Homo sapiens: one gene and its partner. The protein of the gene in region 2 purifies or fractionates together with the protein of the main gene of each other region. This does not show direct contact. Each region holds a gene or a part of one and is shown on either strand. Other genes may lie near its edges.

What was found.
Region 1: the proteins of RBM10 (region 2) and KATNIP purify together in Homo sapiens (tandem affinity purification; one large-scale study listed by IntAct). This does not show direct contact.

Annotation. Positions count from the first base shown.
Region 1 is NC_000016.10:27,738,632-27,742,284, forward strand, and holds part of KATNIP (katanin-interacting protein), read left to right. Parts: intron 1-1,409; coding exon 1,410-2,289; intron 2,290-3,653. UniProt on the Homo sapiens protein: May influence the stability of microtubules (MT), possibly through interaction with the MT-severing katanin complex.
Region 2 is NC_000023.11:47,151,711-47,155,363, forward strand, and holds part of RBM10 (RNA-binding protein 10), read left to right. Parts: intron 1-3,653. UniProt on the Homo sapiens protein: Binds to ssRNA containing the consensus sequence 5'-AGGUAA-3'. May be involved in post-transcriptional processing, most probably in mRNA splicing. Binds to RNA homopolymers, with a preference for poly(G) and poly(U) and little for poly(A).

The sequences.
Region 1 (3,653 bases), on a different chromosome or scaffold from region 2:
TGGAGAGCTTTGGAATTTATCCCATCATCGGCATGGTTCTGCACCCCGTCGTGTGAAGAAATCATCCGGAGAACTTGTTCTGAGTCCAGAAGTTACCTACAGGCTGCCTTGAGGCAGTGGTCCTCACACGGCATCCTCCTGGCTCCCTTCCAACTGCAGCTGCCGTGAACATGGGACAGTCCCCGCATGTGGACAGTGCCCTGCCTCAGGTGCTCGTGGGGTGCTCTGCCGTGGGAGCACACTCAGCTCGTGCATGTGTTGGGGCATCAGTGCCCTGAGGGCAGCCTTCAACAAGCAGTGGATAAATGTCCCAGTCTTGGAGAGACATTTGCGACATGCATTTAAGCAGAAGACTCCCATGATCTGATTTCAGTTAAAAAAAAAAAAACTCACTGCTGCATAGAAAATGAAGTGTGAGTGCAGGGATTTGGAGGAGACAACGCAGAGTGGAAGCAGAGAGACCAATTAGGAGGCGGCAGTGGTGTCTCTGGTAGAGACCCTGGTGGCCTGGGCAAGGAAGGCAGCAGCACATTCCAGGTAAAGAGGTCAGACCCAGGAAGTGTTCTGGAGAGAGAGGCGAGGGACAGCTGGCGGATTGGATGGGCAAGTGAGAAAGAGAGGGATCAAGGGGGCCACGAGGTTTTTGGCCACTGCTTCAATGATGGAGCCATTTTTAAGATAGGTGAAGACTAGGGTTGGGGAAAGTGAGATCTTGGAGTGCCGCAGAGGGCCCCCGTGGGAAGGAGCACCAGTTGGCCACAGCAGTGACCAGCTCAAAAAAACTGGGTTTTTCCTTTTTCCTGCCCTATCTTGCTTTCCCCATTTCCTCTTGGAATCACCTGCCAAATACTCGACTTGCACCCGAGTCCTTGTCTCAGCCTCTGCTTTTACGGTCTCCCAATTATGATGCCCACGGAGGCCAGGAAAGCTGTTTTATAAGCACTCCAGGCTTTTCGACGCAGATGGTCTCAGGAACTGGACTTTAAAGAACACTGCTATAGGCTGTGAAAAAACATGAAGGATTTCACACAGGGGAATGACTGGACAGATTTGCTCTGGTAGGAAATGAACTCTGGTGGCAATGTGAAGTCCAAGTTAAAGTAGCAAGAGACAGGAAGCAGGGAGACCCATTAGTAGGCTATTACGAATGTCCCGACAGGAGGTAATGATGACGAAGGCAGCGATTGAGGCCGTCTCTTTGTGAAAGTCCTTTGATTTATAGAGTATGTAGCGGTTCCCACAGAAATGAGACCAAGCCTAGTTTCACACCCCCAGCACTGTGGTTTTCAAAAGCTTGCATTTCTAGCATTTCACATTTTCTTTTCTTTTTTTGGTATCTTCGACTTCCAAAATTTCATACATCAGTCTGATGCTATGCATCTTCACTTTGTTAAATCTTATGGTTTCAGGATCTTGACATTGGTGCCAAGAACGTGAAGCTTTACGTCAACAGAAACCTCATCTTCAATGGCAAGTTAGACAAAGGAGATAGGGAGGCCCCAGCTGACCACAGCATCCTGGTTGACCAGAAGAACGAGAAGAGCGAGCAACTAGAGGAGGCCATGAACGCTCACTCGGAAGAAAGCAAAGGCACCCATGAGATGGCTGGTGCCAGCGGGGACAAGGAGCTTGGTCTCGGTTGCTCACCGCCAGCTGAAACATTAGCGGATGCAAAGCTTTCTTCACAAGGAAATGTGTCTGGCAAAAGAAAGAATTCTACTAATTGCAGGAAAGACAGTTTGTCCCAGTTAGAGGAATATTTGAGACTGTCGGCAGTCCCCACTTCGATGGGTGACATGCCCAGTGCTCCTGCCACTTCCCCACCTGTGAAGTGCCCTCCTGTCCATGAGGAGCCCTCTCTCATCCAACAACTGGAAAACCTCATGGGCAGAAAAATCTGTGAGCCACCCGGGAAAACCCCATCCTGGTTACAACCTTCTCCCACCGGCAAGGACAGGAAGCAGGGAGGCAGGAAGCCAAAACCCCTCTGGCTTAGTCCCGAGAAGCCCCTGGCCTGGAAGGGCAGGCTCCCATCAGACGATGTCATCGGTGAGGGTCCTGGAGAGACCGAGGCCAGGGATAAAGGCCTACGGCATGAGCCAGGGTGGGGGACCAGCCGGAGTGTCAACACCAAGGAGAGACCCCAGAGGGCAACCACCAAAGTCCACAGTGATGACTCAGACATCTTTAACCAGCCCCCCAACAGAGAGCGCCCTGCTAGTGGGAGGAGGGGCTCAAGGAAGGATGCTGGCAGCAGTAGTCATGGGGACGACCAGCCAGCCAGCAGAGGTAAGCTCCAAAGAGCAGCCCGACTTGGGCATCATCATCCCAGCCCCTCTAATTGGCATGAAGCCAGTTAGCTCCTGGACCTCAGTTTCCTTATCTGCACAACAAGATGGTTGTTCTCAACTAAGGGTCACAAAATCACTGTCTCAGGGGCCAAAGAGATGCATACATGAGTGAAATGGGCAAGACACATTTTGCATGGTAAATTCATAGATGTATTTGTCATTGCCACCAAGGTATGTCCCTTTGCCCATTTTTCTTGCAACACATGGCTTTTCCAAGCCATTTTCCAAAAGACTTTGTTCTCCTGCCTTTCATAGAGACATCGGTCTCTAGTCACTTCACTTTATCCTTAACTGTACTGTTAGAAAAATAGCTGGGTACAGTGGCCAGGCCTGTAATCCCAGCACTTTGGGAGGCTTAGGTAGGAGGATCGCTTGAGCCAAGGAGGTCGAGGCTACGGTGAGCCATGATTGCGCCACTGCACTCCAGCCTGGGTGACACAGCGAGACTCTGTCTCAAAGAAAAAAAAGAAAAAATAATAACACAAGTGTGATGATGCATAGCAATTGACACTTGCCTGAGTGTTGGAAGTGGCACAGGGAATAGTGAGGACTTTGGCAATTTGGAGACCATAAGCCCACCCACAGGGCGGCTGCCACTCCACTCAGGTTTCTAATAAGCATTTAGGAGTGCAAGGCCAGGCCGGGCGCAATGGCTCACACCTGTAATCCCAGCACTTTGGGAGGCCGAGGCGGGCAGATAACCTGAGGCCAGGAGTTCGAGACCAGCCTGGCCAACATGGTAAAACCCTGACTCTACTAAAAATACAAAAATTAGCCAGGCATGTGGTGCGTTCCTGTAATCCCAGCTACTTGGGAGGCTGAGGCAGGAGGATCACTTGAACCTAGGAGGTGGAGGCTACAGTGATCCGAAATTGTGCCACTGCACTCCAGCCTGGGCAAGAGAGTGAGACTCCGTCTCAAAAAAAAATAATGAATGCAAGGCCACTGTACCAGACCTCCTCTTTACTTTTTTCAAGAGAAACCAGAAATGTTTCTTATTTTTTGACTTTGGCAACTGATTGAGATTATTTTTAAACTACTGTATATGTCAAAAAAAAAAAAAAAAGGCACATCTGCTGGCAGGACTCACCCTGAGAGCTTTGTGAACTTTGCAGTAGATGATTAGATGGTCTTCAAGGGCATTCCTGATTATGAAAGGAGAGCCCATCAAGGCAGGGAGTCTCAATATTTGCACTCAGACTTGGCTCCTGGAGAGTACGGATAGCAGCTAGGAGTCAAACCATTGAATCCAAACTCAGCCGCTTACAGACCTGGGACCTCTAGCCAGGCACACAACTCTCT
Region 2 (3,653 bases):
ATCCTCAGCACATGGCAGTTGAGACAGTAGGAAGAAGGGAGAGGAATAAAAGGGAATGTGTCTAAAGTTTCTCCATTAAGTATGGTGCATGCAGTAAGTTTTTAGAATGTATCCTTTAATAAATCAAGAAAATTATCTAATCTTCGTTTGCTAAGATTGACCATAAATAAGTATTGAACTTCAAAATCCTGTGCTTTTTTTCTCCCTTTGTCCATTAATTTCATAAATTGTGGCCTGGCATGGTGGATCACAGCACCTTGGGAGGCCAAGGTGGTTGGATCGCTTGAGGCCAGGAGTTCAAGACCAGCCTGGCCAACATGGTGAAACCTCATTTCTACTAAAAATAAAAAAATCAGCCAGGCGTGGTGAAGCATGTCTGTAATCCCAGCTACTGGGGAGACTGAGACATGAGAATCGCTTGAACCTGGGAGGTGGAGGTTGCAATAAGCTGAGATCGTGCCACTGCACTCCATCCTGGGCAACAGAGTGAGACTCCATATCAAAAAAATAAATAAAAATTTTGTAAATTGCATTAAATGATATCCTTGGCATTCTTGAGCTATACCCCACTTGATCATGGTATGTATGTATATGTTTATGACTTCTTACTTTGAAAATATCTCAAATTTACAGAAAGGTTGCAAGAAAAAGTATAATGAATTCCCATATATCCTCTACTCAGAATTACTTGTTTTAAGTATTTTGCCACATTTGCTCTATCACTCTATATCTTTTTTTTTTTTTTTTTTTTTTTTTGAGACGGAATCACTCTGTCACCCAGGCTGGAGTGCAATGGCGTGATCTTGGCTCACTGCAACCTCCGCCTCCTGTGTTCAAGCAATTCTCCTGCCTCAGCCTTCCAAGTAGCTGGGATTACACGCGCCTGCCAGTACGCCTGGCTAATTTTTGTATTTTTATTAGAAACGAGGTTTCACCATGTTGGTCAGGTTGGTCTCAAACTCCTGACCTCAGGTGATCCACCTGCCTCAGCTTCCCAAAGTGCTGGAATTACAGGCGTGAGCTACCGCGCCTGGCCCACCCTATAGCTCTATATCTTTACATAGACACACACACACACACACACACACACACACACACACACACACGTTTTTTTTAATCGTTTGAGTTGGTGGCAGCCATGACTTTTCTTTTTGAGTCAGAGTTTCACTCTTGTTGCCCAGGCTGGAGTGCAATGGTGCAATCTCGGCCCACTGCAACCTCTTCCTCCTGCATTCAAGCGATTCTCCTGCCTCAGTCTCCCAAGTAGCTGGGATTACAGGCATGCGTCACCACACCCAGCTAATTTTGTATTTTTAGTAGAGACAGGATTTTTCCATGTTGATCAGGCTGGTTTCAAACTCCCGACCTCAGGTGATCCGCCCATCTCGGCCTCCCAAAGTGCTGGGATTACAGGCATGAGCCACCACATCCAGCCTGACATGACCTTTTAAGTCTGGCAGCATGTACGTCTTAAGAACAAAGGTGTTCTCTTCCATAACCACAATATACTTATCAATATCAGGAAATTAAACAATTATATAGTACTTTTATTCTATATAAAGCCCATATTCAGATGTTATCACTCTTCTCAATAATGTCCTTTATAATGGTTTTCCCCAATCCAGGATCCAGTCCAAGATCATGTATTGCATTGAGCTCCTTGTCTCCTTTAATCTGAAACAGTTATTCTATCTTTGTCTTTTATGACCTTGTCATTTTTTTTTTTCCTGAACCTATGGATTATATTGAAAGCATGTTTTAAAGTTAGTTGTTTTATAGAATGTTTCTCAGTTTGGATTTTTCTGATGCTTACTCATGAGTTTTTGGCAGAAATGTTATTTAAGTGATTTATGTATATTTTTAAAACCTTGTTAGATTTTATTAGCCATTGTATCATCTAGGATATCTACACCTGTATTTATCAGTGAGGTAGTCCAATATTTTTATTTTCAGTATTTATCTGGCATTGGAATCAAGGTAGCCTCATTACATGAATTGGGCAGCCTTTGTTATTCTCTCTTTATTGGAGAAACTTGTATAAGAATTATCTGTACCTCGAAAAACTTGGTAGGACTCACCTTTAAAAGCATCTGGAGGCTGGGCGCAGTGGGCTGAGGCAGTTGGATCACTTGAACCCAGGAATTCGAGACGATCCTGGGCAACATGGCGAAACTCTGTCTCTACAAAAAATACAAAAATTAGCTGGGCGTGGTGGCAGGTGCCTATAGTTCTAACTACTCAGGAGGCTGAGGCAGGAGGATTACCTGAGTCTGGGAGGTTGAGACTGTGGTAAGCCATGATCATGCCACTGCACTCCAGCCTCAGTGACAGAGTGACACCCTGTCTCAAAAAATAATAAAATAAAAGCATCTGGAGCTGGTTTTTGATTACCATTTCATCTCTTCTGCCAATTTTAGCATTTTATATTTTCTAGAAATATACTCATTTTGTGAAGATCCTCATATATGATGATTCAGTCCAGCATCCTAGAAATGCTTTATAAAAGGGATATGCCTTTGGAAGGTGTTTGTTCAGAGTGCTTTGGTGGCCAATTAAAAATATTCCTTTCTATCCAAATATGTTCCCTTCCTGAGTTTAGATAGCAAGAGTTCAATACCTGAATTTATTTGGTTTGGATATTGGATGTCAAGAGAGTTCAGGATAATTTCATCTGAAAATTTATAAATTTATTCATATCTGTTCAGTTCTTGATTTTTTTTCCTTTTTTTTTTGTTTGTTTGTTTGTTTGTTTTTGTTTGTGGAGATAGTCTCACTCTGTCTTCCAGGCTGGAGTTCAGTGGTGCGATCTTGGCTCACCGCAACCTCTGCTTTCCAGGCTCAGGGGATTCTTGTGCCTCAGCTTCCTGAGTAGCAAGGATTACAGGCCCGTGCCACCACACCCGGCTAATTTTTGTATTTTAGTAGAGACGGGGTTTCACCATGTTTGCCAGACTGGTCTCGAACTCCGTACCTCAGGTGATCCACTCGCTTCAGCCTCCGAAAGTGCTGGGATTACAGGTGTGAGCCACCATGATGGCCCAGTTCTTGAATTTTGATGACTACAGTTCAAATTGATTGTATCAAGAACCTTATAACTACTCATACCACTGACAGTGATTTCTTCTCTAGGCATTTACGGTAGGGAAACAATTTGGGGCCAGGTGTGGTGGCTCACGCCTGTAATCCCAGCACTTTGGGAGGCCGAGGCGGGTGAATCACGAGGTCAGGAGTTTGGGACCAGCCTGGCCAACATGATGAAACCCCATCTCTACTAAAAATACAAAAAATTAGCTGGGTGTGGTGGCAGGCACCTGTAATCCCAGCTACTCGGGAGGCTGAGGAAGGACAATCGCTTGAACCCAGGAGGTGGAAGTTGCAGTGAGCCAAGATCACGCCACTGCACTCCAGCCCGGAGGACAGTGCGAGACTCCCTCTCAAAAAAAAAAAAAAAAAAAAAAGAGTTTGGGTTCCAAGCTGAGTTCGTGGGGACAGGGACTTTATTTTGTTCACAGCAGTATCCCCATTACCTAGAACAGTACTTATCGTATAGCCAATGTTAGGTTAATATTTGTTGAATGAATGCATGAACAAATAATTGTTTAAAAAAATGGAAGTCAACCAAAATGTTTGAAAACATGTTTAATGGATATTTG